Regions from separate parts of the Homo sapiens genome. Here region 1 is reported to be linked to region 2. The links are microRNA targets in miRTarBase. Many come from high-throughput screens and were not tested one by one. Region 2 holds a microRNA gene; the other region holds the end of a gene's coding sequence.

Region 1 (7,112 bases), not on the chromosome of region 2:
CAGCTACTAGGGAGGCTGAGGTGGGAGGATTGCCTGAGCCCAGGAGATGAAGACTGCTGTGAGCTGTGATTGTACCACTGTACTCCAGCCTGGGTGACAGAGCAAGAACCTGTCTCAAAAAAAAACAAAAAAAACAAAAAAACAAAAACAAACAAAAACAAAAAAACGGCCGGGTGCGGTGGCTCACGCCTGTAATCCCAGCACTTTGGGAGGCTGAGGCGGGTGGATCATGAGGTCAGTAGTTCAAGACCAGCCTGGCCAACATGATAAAACGCCATCTCTACTAAAAACACAAAAAATTAGCTGGGCTTGTTGCCCGGCACCTGTAATTCCAGCTACTTGGGAGGCTGAGGCAGGAGAATCACTTGAACCAGGGAGGTGGAGGTTGTGGTGAGCCGAGATCACACCACTGTACTCCAGCCTGGGCAACAGAGTGAGACTTTGTCTCAAAAATAAAATAAAATAAAATAAAGGCTGGGCGCAGTGGCTCACGCCTGTAATCCCAGCACTTTGGGAGACCGAGGCAGGCGGATCACAAGCTCAGGAGAGCGAGACCATCCTGGCTAACATGGTGAAACCCCGTCTCTACTAAAAATACAAAAAAATTAGCCGGATGTGGTGGCGGGCGCCTGTAGTCCCAGCTACTCGGGAGGCTGAGGCAGGAGAATGTGTGAACCCGGGAGGCGGAGCTTACAGTGAGCCGAGATCGCGCCACTGCACTCCAGCCTGGGTGACAGATCGAGACTCCGTCTCAAAAAAAAAAAAAAAAAGAGACCAGCCTGATCAACGTGGAGAAACCCCGTCTCTAATAAAAATACAAAAAAAATAGCTGGGCATGGTGGCACATGCCTGTAATTCCAGCCTGGGCAACAAGAGTAAAACTCTGTCTCAAAAAAAAAAAAAAAAAAAATAGCAGAACCTGGGGACTGTGACTTCCTTGGGAGGAGCTGCCCATCCTCTTCCCTTTCATTCTCTCAGCTTTTTGGCCTTTCAGCAAGGAATTGCTTTATGTAAACTAAACGTGGAAGAAAAAGAAATTGTCTTCTCACCTAATTGTAAATTAGTGATGTTTCCCTGGTGCCAGTGAGTATGTTCAGTTCTTGGAGACTTAATGTTAGCTTGTCCTTGAACTCTGAGCTGATGAGTTGTGATATCTACCATTCAAAAGGCCAGGACTGAGTCATGATGGGATTCCTGTGGGGGCAGTTGGCACATGTCTGGTAGATTGGGATAGTGGTGCTGTAGATGGGTATTCTCTACTTGTAGTTTTCCGTTTGAGGGTTCCTGGTGCCCTAACTTCGTGGGATCTGTCCAGCCGCCTTTGTTGAGGTTGGCTTGCCATATACATCCCCTTCTGGAATTTGAAGAATGTTTGGTTTCAGACTGCTCCTCCGCACTGACCCGAGACAGGATAGGAAATTGGACAGATAGAACTGACTCGTCCTGCTGTTCTTGTGTAAGACTAGCTTGCTTCTGGGTCTTGTGTCTGTGGCCCCTGCCTTAGGAGCAATCATAACCCTTTGGGTCTTCTTTGAGCCCTATGTTAGCCCTGTCTGGTTCTGGACCCTCATAAGGTGTCAGACGTATGCCTCTGAATGAGTCCTCCATGTCTAAAGCCACCCCTCTGTCCCAGCAGGTACCACGAGTGGATGAAATCAGAGGAGCTGCAGCGTTTGACAGCCTCGGAGCCGCTGACCCTGGAGCAGGAGTATGCCATGCAGTGCAGCTGGCAGGAAGATGCAGACAGTGAGGAGTGCCCCCCCACTTCCCCTAGCCCTGGTACTGGGAGGGCTGACTCCACAGTCAGTCTCCAGGTTCCTTCCCTTTCCCAGCCCCGGCCATAGAAGCTTTGTGAAAAGCCTGGAAGGTGCTGGAACTCCTGTATTCTCATGGCCCTGAAGCCAGTCCCTGTGGCTGACCCTTCTGTCCTCTTCCCCACCCACTGCATCGGGCTTGGAAGGATTTGGAGAAAGTAGAGCATTTGGGGCTCTGGCTGTAAATTGAGGCCCTGCCCCTCATGTCCCTCACCACAGCCTAGTGTGGTGACTGCCCTCCTCTGTGTTCCCTGCTCTCTGAGAATTTGGTTGCTGGTTGGAGAGGCTTTTTCTGTATGAGGCAGATTTGGAATTTTGTAATGAGCTGAAGGAAGCTCTGGGACCCCCTCTTCTCCTGGCAGACTCAGAGATGCTGGTGTTCTGCAGTGCTCTGGCTTGGGTAGGAGTACCATCCTCTCTTCTCTCCTCTGGGGAGTGTGTGTGATAGCCCTGTCACCTCCTCCTCAGAGTGTACCTTCATTGTGCTGGATGCCGAGAAGTGGCAGGCCCAGCCAGGCGCCACCGAAGAGAGCTGCATGGTGGGAGATGTGAACCTCTTCCTCACAGATCTAGAAGACCTCACCTTGGGGGAGATCGAGGTCATGATTGCAGGTTTGTTTCACCTAGCCCTGCCTTCCGCTGACTCCCGGCTCTCAGATCTGCTGACTGAGCCTGCCGAGGCTGCAAAGGGTGGGCACTCACAGGGTTCACTGGGAGGCTCCATGTGGTGAGTCCAGGGCCTGGCTGGGCAGCCTGCCCACCTAGCCCCCTCAGCCTGGTGGTACACCCTCAGCCTCATCACTTTAGTCCTTATGCTTAGGCGTGAACTTAACCCTTGGTTTGGGGTAGATTCAAGTATGGTTAGTCCCATAGTTGGGGTGGGCTGGGGACCCTCAGAAAAAGGTCTCTGGAGCATGTTGTCATATTACAGGAGGAGGCCCTCCTGTTTCTGCTCCTTCATGGTCCTCAGTTTCCCCCAAGTGGCTACTGACTATCCCCATGAGGCAGCATACTGACTCCATGAGGTAAAGAGGTCAGCTTTGAAGTCAGGTTGCTGGGTTGCAAGCTGTGAGGCCTTTCACACTTCTTTGTGCCTGTTTCCTCGTCTGCAGAATGGTAATGATAGTAGCAACTTCAGAGTTGTTGAGAATTAAATGAGATGGTGTCTGCCAAGTGCCCGCACTGGAGCCTGGCACACGGCGTCAGCGCCGCTCCTGTTGTCTCTCCTAGAGCCCAGCTGCAGGGGTAAGGGCCTTGGCACTGAGGCCGTTCTCGCGATGCTGTCTTACGGTAAGAAAGTGTGAGCAGACAATGCGGGAAGTGGGCAGGCCCCAGGTGAACTTTGTTCAGGTGTGAGGGTTGGGGGCAGGTGAAGGTTCCTCCTCTGCAGCTTGGGACAGGAGGGTGGGGGCAGGCGCCTCCTTACTTGCCCCTGTCTCATCTCCTCTGCGAGGAGTGACCACGCTAGGTCTGACCAAGTTTGAGGCTAAAATTGGGCAAGGAAATGAACCAAGCATCCGGATGTTCCAGAAACTTCACTTTGAGCAGGTAAGGATGTCCTGGGGCAGAGTGGGGCTTAGACCTGGGTGGTGGGCCTGGTGGTGGTAATACTGTAACTTAGCAGGCTTTGTTCTCTCTGGCTCACGTAGGTGGCTACGAGCAGTGTTTTTCAGGAGGTGACCCTCAGACTGACAGTGAGTGAGTCCGAGCATCAGTGGCTTCTGGAGCAGACCAGCCACGTGGAAGAGAAGCCTTACAGAGATGGGTCGGCAGAGCCCTGCTGATGGCTGGGCCTTGTGGGCAGCCACTCTGTGTGAGCAGGGTGTTGGGCCCATACACTTCAAAGACCAGAGCCCTGCACTGGGAGAGTGCTCCTGGCCCAGGCTGGGAATCACCTTTCGAGGCCCTTCAGACTCTGGCGGGGCTTGCTGTGGCCTCCCTCCAGCTAGTGGTGTGGCTGAGCAGACTCCAGGGCCAGGGCCAGTTCCCTTCTCCCCTCCCGGCCAAACCCAGACCCAGACTCTAGGAAGCTGGAATGGAGGGCAGGGATCCATGGGAGATGTCGGGATGAAGGTGGGAGCTGGAGGTGCAGGGGGACCTGGAACATGGATGGGAGTGGACAGGCCTTTCTCCTTAGAGGCCAGAGGTGCTGCCCTGGCTGGGAGTGAAGCTCCAGGCACTACCAGCTTTCCTGATTTTCCCGTTTGGTCCATGTGAAGAGCTACCACGAGCCCCAGCCTCACAGTGTCCACTCAAGGGCAGCTTGGTCCTCTTGTCCTGCAGAGGCAGGCTGGTGTGACCCTGGGAACTTGACCCGGGAACAACAGGTGGTCCAGAGTGAGTGTGGCCTGGCCCCTCAACCTAGTGTCCGTCCTCCTCTCTCCTGGAGCCAGTCTTGAGTTTAAAGGCATTAGTGTTAGATACAGCTCCTTGTGGCTGGAAAACACCCCTCTGCTGATAAAGCTCAGGGGGCACTGAGGAAGCAGAGGCCCCTTGGGGGTGCCCTCCTGAAGAGAGCGTCAGGCCATCAGCTCTGTCCCTCTGGTGCTCCCACGTCTGTTCCTCACCCTCCATCTCTGGGAGCAGCTGCACCTGACTGGCCACGCGGGGGCAGTGGAGGCACAGGCTCAGGGTGGCCGGGCTACCTGGCACCCTATGGCTTACAAAGTAGAGTTGGCCCAGTTTCCTTCCACCTGAGGGGAGCACTCTGACTCCTAACAGTCTTCCTTGCCCTGCCATCATCTGGGGTGGCTGGCTGTCAAGAAAGGCCGGGCATGCTTTCTAAACACAGCCACAGGAGGCTTGTAGGGCATCTTCCAGGTGGGGAAACAGTCTTAGATAAGTAAGGTGACTTGCCTAAGGCCTCCCAGCACCCTTGATCTTGGAGTCTCACAGCAGACTGCATGTGAACAACTGGAACCGAAAACATGCCTCAGTATAAAACAAACATTATAAAACGAACGCGTTGCTTGCCGTGGCTCCCTTCGTACCATGTGTACCTCAGCAATGAGAGTTCCCTTGGGGCCACCCATTCCTTCCACCAGTCTTCAGGTTAATGAAGAGTCAAAGGTCCCCCAGGGCTTCCCCACCCAGCAGGTGAGATAGGGAGGGGCCCTCCACGACCCCTGTGGAGGGGAATCTGTCAGGGGCCAAAGGGTAGAAGCAAGGGTGGGGTGGGGGCAGGTCAGCTGAGCAGGGCACTGCTGTGGTAAGGGTTTTGGATGGTTCCTCTGACAAGGAGCAGGAGATGGCCAGATAGTGACTGGCCTGGGGGACACTGTCCACTCCCTGATTCCAGATCTACCTGCTTTACTCATTCCCCTCAGCCCAGGAGCCTATTTTCTGAGAGGTGTCCCTTTGGGTTGGGTGGAGACTAGCCTGGGGGCACCTTCCTCCTGAGCACCTGCCCGGAACCTCCCGGCTCTGCAGCCTAGCTCTTGCAAGCCACCTTCCTGGACCTCCAGATCAGGCTTCAGGTGCCAAAGGTATCAGGGACCTGGGTCTTTTGTTGGGGGCAGGGCACCTTGCCCTTGAACAGTCCCTTCCACCCCAGCTAGCCACACAGCATGTCCCCGGGCTCAGTGGACCGGTTTGTTTTCCCCTGGCACTGGACACTTGCCCTCCAATCAGGTCACAATGGCCAGATAAGATAGAGGATCTGGCACCAGCCCAGCCTGCCCCTGGGAATTCTGCACCCCACTGGCTATAGGCAGAAAGAGTAAAGCCAAGTCCTCACATTCCAAACCCAGCTCCATCCTGGGACACACTTTCCACGCTTCTGGAATTAAAGGAACCTCCCAGAGTCCTCTGAGAACGTTGGTCTGAGCTCCCACTTCCCCTTGTAAATATCCCCGTTAGACAAGGGGTCCCCAGCCCACAATCGGTGCTTGCAGCCCAGCACACAGGCACACTGACCACACCAAGCTGAATACCCGGCTGGGTGCATGCATCTTCCTTCCTACAGGACTGCAGCTAGGCCCTCTAGCTAAAGCTACCCAGGCTTGGGGTCACAGGGAGCCCTTGATGGCCCTCCCTCCAGTGTACCCCACCCTCCCAGCCAAAGACCACCTTGGCTTACCATTTCTCAATTTCTACCTATAAGGGGTCCAAGGCCAGAGGACAAAACTTCCAAGGAACACACGGAGGCTGAAGGGTTTGGAGGAACCAGCTGAATTTCTGAAAGTGTTTCCTTACAATGGTGGTACCTGGCTCAGGGATGGGCAGGGGTAGCCAAACCCTCCCCGTGCTGCCCAGTTCGCTGAGGGTGGGAGTAGGAACAAAAGTTTAAGGCTGAGGCCACTGCCATGCCCTGGATGTAACAACCAGGAAAATCATGTTAATCAAGGAAACAAAAATTCCTCTAGACTCTGCAATACTGCACTCTTAACAAAAATCAAATGAAAACAAGACGTGTCTGCCACAGGTCTCAGGGTAACAGATGCCCTGTCCACTGAGAGCGGCAGTTCTGCAGTCAGAGTTCTTTGATCAGCCCTGGACCCATTTATCACATGGGGGAGGAAGGGAGGGTGCCCTCTCGCCTGGTCCCATGATCCTGGCATGGTGCAGGTTCCAGCGATGTCCCAGGCAGGGTGGCAAAGGGACACCCGGTAGGATGAGGCACTCAGTGAGGAGGAGGGAGGCAGAGTCTCCTTTCTGACTGCGGGAGGACGGGAACACATTCACCTTCCCTAAAGTCAGGGAAGAACATAGTTCTCTAGAAAAATCATTTGTCAAGAAAGGGGATGTGGGTGCTGATTTGTACATTGATTCAGGGGAGTAATTGGGGAGAAGGAAAAAGGTGGGGTGGAATGCTGGCTCGGCCCTGCCAGTCACTGGGTGGCAGCAGGGCGCTCAGAGGTTGCTGAAGAGTTCGTTTTTCTTGCTCCAGTCCATCTGCGGGGCCCGTTTGCTGCTGCGTTTCTGGTGGGCCCTCTCTTTGGCCATGGCCAGGGAGATGTTGAAGTCTAGGATGGGGTCGGAGGAGGAGGTAGACGAGGGCGCTGTGGAGTCCTGTTTTGGGGGGCTGTCTTGGGAATTCAGCTGTAAAGAGAAGTGGGGGCAGGAAGTTGGGAGTCAGTCCCTCATTAGGCTCCCTGGTCCTCAGCCTTGGTGAGGTGGCTCCGTTGGGGCCGTGCCCAGGGAAGCCAGGTCACAAGAACAGAATGCGGCTCAGCATGTGACCTCAAAGGCAGGCTGGTGTGCCAGGAACAAGTGGGGCCTGGGAATCGGCTTCCTGTAACCCAGTTGCCACCCCCCGCATGGCTGGCCTACCTCCTCGCTGGTGTCACTGGAGGCGGA
Region 2 (7,102 bases):
TTCATCTACCGAGACCCAGGCTCCTATCTTGTGACAGTCACCGCGTCCAACAACATCTCTGCTGCCAATGACTCAGCCCTGGTGGAGGTGCAGGAGCCCGTGCTGGTCACCAGCATCAAGGTCAATGGCTCCCTTGGGCTGGAGCTGCAGCAGCCGTACCTGTTCTCTGCTGTGGGCCGTGGGCGCCCCGCCAGCTACCTGTGGGATCTGGGGGACGGTGGGTGGCTCGAGGGTCCGGAGGTCACCCACGCTTACAACAGCACAGGTGACTTCACCGTTAGGGTGGCCGGCTGGAATGAGGTGAGCCGCAGCGAGGCCTGGCTCAATGTGACGGTGAAGCGGCGCGTGCGGGGGCTCGTCGTCAATGCAAGCCGCACGGTGGTGCCCCTGAATGGGAGCGTGAGCTTCAGCACGTCGCTGGAGGCCGGCAGTGATGTGCGCTATTCCTGGGTGCTCTGTGACCGCTGCACGCCCATCCCTGGGGGTCCTACCATCTCTTACACCTTCCGCTCCGTGGGCACCTTCAATATCATCGTCACGGCTGAGAACGAGGTGGGCTCCGCCCAGGACAGCATCTTCGTCTATGTCCTGCAGCTCATAGAGGGGCTGCAGGTGGTGGGCGGTGGCCGCTACTTCCCCACCAACCACACGGTACAGCTGCAGGCCGTGGTTAGGGATGGCACCAACGTCTCCTACAGCTGGACTGCCTGGAGGGACAGGGGCCCGGCCCTGGCCGGCAGCGGCAAAGGCTTCTCGCTCACCGTGCTCGAGGCCGGCACCTACCATGTGCAGCTGCGGGCCACCAACATGCTGGGCAGCGCCTGGGCCGACTGCACCATGGACTTCGTGGAGCCTGTGGGGTGGCTGATGGTGGCCGCCTCCCCGAACCCAGCTGCCGTCAACACAAGCGTCACCCTCAGTGCCGAGCTGGCTGGTGGCAGTGGTGTCGTATACACTTGGTCCTTGGAGGAGGGGCTGAGCTGGGAGACCTCCGAGCCATTTACCACCCATAGCTTCCCCACACCCGGCCTGCACTTGGTCACCATGACGGCAGGGAACCCGCTGGGCTCAGCCAACGCCACCGTGGAAGTGGATGTGCAGGTGCCTGTGAGTGGCCTCAGCATCAGGGCCAGCGAGCCCGGAGGCAGCTTCGTGGCGGCCGGGTCCTCTGTGCCCTTTTGGGGGCAGCTGGCCACGGGCACCAATGTGAGCTGGTGCTGGGCTGTGCCCGGCGGCAGCAGCAAGCGTGGCCCTCATGTCACCATGGTCTTCCCGGATGCTGGCACCTTCTCCATCCGGCTCAATGCCTCCAACGCAGTCAGCTGGGTCTCAGCCACGTACAACCTCACGGCGGAGGAGCCCATCGTGGGCCTGGTGCTGTGGGCCAGCAGCAAGGTGGTGGCGCCCGGGCAGCTGGTCCATTTTCAGATCCTGCTGGCTGCCGGCTCAGCTGTCACCTTCCGCCTGCAGGTCGGCGGGGCCAACCCCGAGGTGCTCCCCGGGCCCCGTTTCTCCCACAGCTTCCCCCGCGTCGGAGACCACGTGGTGAGCGTGCGGGGCAAAAACCACGTGAGCTGGGCCCAGGCGCAGGTGCGCATCGTGGTGCTGGAGGCCGTGAGTGGGCTGCAGGTGCCCAACTGCTGCGAGCCTGGCATCGCCACGGGCACTGAGAGGAACTTCACAGCCCGCGTGCAGCGCGGCTCTCGGGTCGCCTACGCCTGGTACTTCTCGCTGCAGAAGGTCCAGGGCGACTCGCTGGTCATCCTGTCGGGCCGCGACGTCACCTACACGCCCGTGGCCGCGGGGCTGTTGGAGATCCAGGTGCGCGCCTTCAACGCCCTGGGCAGTGAGAACCGCACGCTGGTGCTGGAGGTTCAGGACGCCGTCCAGTATGTGGCCCTGCAGAGCGGCCCCTGCTTCACCAACCGCTCGGCGCAGTTTGAGGCCGCCACCAGCCCCAGCCCCCGGCGTGTGGCCTACCACTGGGACTTTGGGGATGGGTCGCCAGGGCAGGACACAGATGAGCCCAGGGCCGAGCACTCCTACCTGAGGCCTGGGGACTACCGCGTGCAGGTGAACGCCTCCAACCTGGTGAGCTTCTTCGTGGCGCAGGCCACGGTGACCGTCCAGGTGCTGGCCTGCCGGGAGCCGGAGGTGGACGTGGTCCTGCCCCTGCAGGTGCTGATGCGGCGATCACAGCGCAACTACTTGGAGGCCCACGTTGACCTGCGCGACTGCGTCACCTACCAGACTGAGTACCGCTGGGAGGTGTATCGCACCGCCAGCTGCCAGCGGCCGGGGCGCCCAGCGCGTGTGGCCCTGCCCGGCGTGGACGTGAGCCGGCCTCGGCTGGTGCTGCCGCGGCTGGCGCTGCCTGTGGGGCACTACTGCTTTGTGTTTGTCGTGTCATTTGGGGACACGCCACTGACACAGAGCATCCAGGCCAATGTGACGGTGGCCCCCGAGCGCCTGGTGCCCATCATTGAGGGTGGCTCATACCGCGTGTGGTCAGACACACGGGACCTGGTGCTGGATGGGAGCGAGTCCTACGACCCCAACCTGGAGGACGGCGACCAGACGCCGCTCAGTTTCCACTGGGCCTGTGTGGCTTCGACACAGGTCAGTGCGTGGCAGGGCCGTCCTCCATGCCCCTCACCCGTCCACACCCATGAGCCCAGAGAACACCCAGCTTGCCACCAGGGCTGGCCCGTCCTCAGTGCCTGGTGGGCCCCGTCCCAGCATGGGGAGGGGGTCTCCCGCGCTGTCTCCTGGGCCGGGCTCTGCTTTAAAACTGGATGGGGCTCTCAGGCCACGTCGCCCCTTGTTCTCGGCCTGCAGAGGGAGGCTGGCGGGTGTGCGCTGAACTTTGGGCCCCGCGGGAGCAGCACGGTCACCATTCCACGGGAGCGGCTGGCGGCTGGCGTGGAGTACACCTTCAGCCTGACCGTGTGGAAGGCCGGCCGCAAGGAGGAGGCCACCAACCAGACGGTGGGTGCCGCCCGCCCCTCGGCCACTTGCCTTGGACAGCCCAGCCTCCCTGGTCATCTACTGTTTTCCGTGTTTTAGTGCTGGTGGAGGCCGCACGCTCTCCCCTCTCTGTTTCTGATGCAAATTCTATGTAACACGACAGCCTGCTTCAGCTTTGCTTCCTTCCAAACCTGCCACAGTTCCACGTACAGTCTTCAAGCCACATATGCTCTAGTGGCAAAAGCTACACAGTCCCCTAGCAATACCAACAGTGAGGAAGAGCCCCTTCCCACCCCAGAGGTAGCCACTGTCCCCAGCCCATGTCCCTGTTGCTGGATGTGGTGGGCCGGTTCTCACCCTCACGCTCCCCTCTCTGGACCGGCCAGGAGGCTTGGTGACCCTGAGCCCGTGGTGGCTGCTCCTGCTGCTGTCAGGCGGGGCCTGCTGGTGCCCCAGAGTGGGCGTCTGTTCCCCAGTCCCTGCTTTCCTCAGCTGGCCTGATTGGGGGTCTTCCCAGAGGGGTCGTCTGAGGGGAGGGTGTGGGAGCAGGTTCCATCCCAGCTCAGCCTCCTGACCCAGGCCCTGGCTAAGGGCTGCAGGAGTCTGTGAGTCAGGCCTACGTGGCAGCTGCGGTCCTCACACCCACACATACGTCTCTTCTCACACGCATCCCCCCAGGGGCCCTCAGTGAGCATTGCCTGCCTCCTGCTAGGGTCCAGCTGGGTCCAGTACACCAGAACGCACACTCCAGTGTCCTCTGCCCTGTGTATGCCCTTCCGCCGTCCAAGTTGGAAGGTGGCAAACCGGATGAGTATCCTGGGAGGGAGTGAGCTCACCGGCAGTGGCCAGGCCCCTGGGAAACCTGGAGTTTGGGAGCAGCATCCTCCATGGGTCCCCCAGTCCTTCCAGCAGGCCAAATAGACCTGTGTTGGAGGTAACCCCACTCCCACGCCAGGTGCTGATCCGGAGTGGCCGGGTGCCCATTGTGTCCTTGGAGTGTGTGTCCTGCAAGGCACAGGCCGTGTACGAAGTGAGCCGCAGCTCCTACGTGTACTTGGAGGGCCGCTGCCTCAATTGCAGCAGCGGCTCCAAGCGAGGGGTGAGTGTTGAGCGGGGTGTGGGCGGGCTGGGGATGGGTCCCATGGCCGAGGGGACGGGGCCTGCAGGCAGAAGTGGGGCTGACAGGGCAGAGGGTTGCGCCCCCTCACCACCCCTTCTGCCTGCAGCGGTGGGCTGCACGTACGTTCAGCAACAAGACGCTGGTGCTGGATGAGACCACCACATCCACGGGCAGTGCAGGCATGCGACTGGTGCTGCGGCGGGGCGTGCTGCGGGACGGCGAGGGATACACCTTCACGCTCACGGTGCTGGGCCGCTCTGGCGAGGAGGAGGGCTGCGCCTCCATCCGCCTGTCCCCCAACCGCCCGCCGCTGGGGGGCTCTTGCCGCCTCTTCCCACTGGGCGCTGTGCACGCCCTCACCACCAAGGTGCACTTCGAATGCACGGGTGAGTGCAGGCCTGCGTGGGGGGAGCAGCGGGATCCCCCGACTCTGTGACGTCACGGAGCCCTCCCGTGATGCCGTGGGGACCGTCCCTCAGGCTGGCATGACGCGGAGGATGCTGGCGCCCCGCTGGTGTACGCCCTGCTGCTGCGGCGCTGTCGCCAGGGCCACTGCGAGGAGTTCTGTGTCTACAAGGGCAGCCTCTCCAGCTACGGAGCCGTGCTGCCCCCGGGTTTCAGGCCACACTTCGAGGTGGGCCTGGCCGTGGTGGTGCAGGACCAGCTGGGAGCCGCTGTGGTCGCCCTCAACAGGTGAGCCAGGCCGTGGGAGGGCGCCCCCGAGACTGCCACCTGCTCACCACCCCCCTCTGCTCGTAGGTCTTTGGCCATCACCCTCCCAGAGCCCAACGGCAGCGCAACGGGGCTCACAGTCTGGCTGCACGGGCTCACCGCTAGTGTGCTCCCAGGGCTGCTGCGGCAGGCCGATCCCCAGCACGTCATCGAGTACTCGTTGGCCCTGGTCACCGTGCTGAACGAGGTGAGTGCAGCCTGGGAGGGGACGTCACATCTGCTGCATGCGTGCTTGGGACCAAGACCTGTACCCCTGCCTGGAGCTTTGCAGAGGGCTCATCCCGGGCCCCAGAGATAAATCCCAGTGACCCTGAAGCAGCACCCCGACCTTCCGCTCCCAGCAGCCACACCCACCGGGCCCTCTCCGGCGTCTGCTTTCCACAATGCAGCCCCCGCCCAGGAGGGCCCATGTGCTTACCCTGTTTTGCCCATGAAGAAACAGCTCAGTGTTGTGGGTCAGTGCCCGCATCACACAGCGTCTAGCACGTAACTGCACCCCGGGAGTCGTGGGCATCTGCTGGCCTCCTGCCGGCCTCCTGCGCTGCTGACAGCTTGCTGTGCCCCCTGCCTGCCCCAGTACGAGCGGGCCCTGGACGTGGCGGCAGAGCCCAAGCACGAGCGGCAGCACCGAGCCCAGATACGCAAGAACATCACGGAGACTCTGGTGTCCCTGAGGGTCCACACTGTGGATGACATCCAGCAGATCGCTGCTGCGCTGGCCCAGTGCATGGTAGGATGGCCCCACCTGCTCACCCTGCCCCGCATGCCTGCCAGGGCACTGGGTTCAGCCCCCCAGGGCAGACGGGCAGCTTGGCCGAGGAGCTGAGCCTCCAGCCTGGGCTCCTTCCTGCCATGGCGTTCCTCGGTCTCTGACCTGCTTCAGTAGCCTCAGCCGTTCTGTCCTGTGTGAACGCAGGGTGCCTCTCGGGGGACCCAGGGTGTAAAGAGGGGCCCAGATGTGGGGAGGGACTAAGAAGATGCTGCTCTGTGCCCTCCACTCTCCCCTCCCCTCCCCTCCCCCTTCCCTCCCCTAGCCCCTCCCCTCCTCCCCTCCCCTAGCCCTTCCCCTCCTCCCCTCCCCTAGCCCTTTCCCTTCTTCCCCCCCAGCCCTTCCCCTCCTCCCCTCCCCTTTTTCTCCACTCCCCTCTCCTCTCTCCCCTCCTCCTCCGCTCTCATGTGAAGAGGTGCCTTGTGTGGTCGGTGGGCTGCATCACGTGGTCCCCAGGTGGAGGCCCTGGGTCATGCAGAGCCACAGAAAATGCTTAGTGAGGAGGCTGTGGGGGTCCAGTCAAGTGGGCTCTCCAGCTGCAGGGCTGGGGGTGGGAGCCAGGTGAGGACCCGTGTAGAGAGGAGGGCGTGTGCAAGGAGTGGGGCCAGGAGCGGGGCTGGACACTGCTGGCTCCACACAGGGGCCCAGCAGGGAGCTCGTATGCCGCTCGTGCCTGAAGCAGACGCTGCACAAGCTGGAGGCCATGATGCTCATCCTGCAGGCAGAGACCACCGCGGGCACCGTGACGCCCACCGCCATCGGAGACAGCATCCTCAACATCACAGGTGCCGCGGCCCGTGCCCCATGCCACCCGCCCGCCCCGTGCGGCCCTTTCCTCTGCCTCCCTCCTCCCCCCAACCGCGTCGCCTTTGCCCCATCCCATCTTCGTCCCCCTCCCCTCCCCCCAATTCCCATCCTCATCCCCCTCCCCCAATTCCCATTCTCCTCCCCCTCCCCCTTCCCTATTACCATCCCTTTTCTCCATCTCTCTCCCCTTTTCTCCATTTCCCCCCCCGTCCTCCCCGTCCTTTTGTCCATTCCCCTCATCTTCCTCATCCCCCTCATCCCCCTTCCCCTCCCTTATCCCCCTTCCCCTCCCTTTCCCCCTGCTCCTCTTCTTCTCCCTTCTCTTTTCTCTACCCTTTTCCTTCCTTTTTCCTCCCTCTCCCCATCATCCCCCTCATCTTCGTCCTCATCCCCATCACCTTCCCCCTCCCCCCTCCACCACTCTCTCTCCAGCTTCCCCCTTCCTTCTGCCTGCACCTCGCTCTCTGCCCCCTCAGGTTCCCCCTTTCTCCCAGCCCCCACCCTCCGGCTCCCCCTTTTTGCCTGCCCCCACCCTCCCTCTACCTCCCTGTCTCTGCACTGACCTCACGCATGTCTGCAGGAGACCTCATCCACCTGGCCAGCTCGGACGTGCGGGCACCACAGCCCTCAGAGCTGGGAGCCGAGTCACCATCTCGGATGGTGGCGTCCCAGGCCTACAACCTGACCTCTGCCCTCATGCGCATCCT

The links. Region 2 holds the annotated microRNA hsa-miR-6511a-5p (CAGGCAGAAGUGGGGCUGACAGG, at 4,131-4,153, shown strand). A microRNA usually pairs through its seed, bases 2 to 8, with sites in the 3' UTR of a target mRNA and lowers its output. Matches are read on the target gene's strand: a 7mer-m8 pairs with bases 2 to 8, a 7mer-A1 pairs with bases 2 to 7 and ends in A, and an 8mer does both.
Region 1: miRTarBase lists NHERF1 as a target of hsa-miR-6511a-5p. Seed matches in the 3' UTR shown: 7mer-m8 at 6,452-6,458.

What each region holds. Positions count from the first base shown.
Region 1 is chr17:74,768,210-74,775,321 of GRCh38, reverse strand. It overlaps NHERF1 (NHERF family PDZ scaffold protein 1), which reads right to left. Exons shown (of 6, transcript NM_004252.5): 5 at 7,086-7,112; 6 at 5,969-6,854. The coding sequence ends at 6,666. It overlaps NAT9 (N-acetyltransferase 9), which reads left to right. Exons shown (of 7, transcript NM_015654.5): 3 at 1,634-1,746; 4 at 2,283-2,426; 5 at 3,045-3,104; 6 at 3,268-3,362; 7 at 3,464-4,793. The coding sequence ends at 3,598. Among named protein-coding and RNA genes, the nearest start is that of NAT9, 4.6 kb to the left of the region's middle. RefSeq lists a silencer at 4,318-4,417.
Region 2 is chr16:2,103,769-2,110,870 of GRCh38, reverse strand. MIR6511B1 (microRNA 6511b-1) reads left to right here and starts at 4,118; the gene lies at 4,118-4,202. It overlaps PKD1 (polycystin 1, transient receptor potential channel interacting), which reads left to right. Exons shown (of 46, transcript NM_001009944.3): 15 at 1-2,619; 16 at 2,839-2,988; 17 at 3,923-4,066; 18 at 4,194-4,473; 19 at 4,567-4,780; 20 at 4,847-5,006; 21 at 5,397-5,549; 22 at 6,229-6,373; 23 at 6,976-7,102.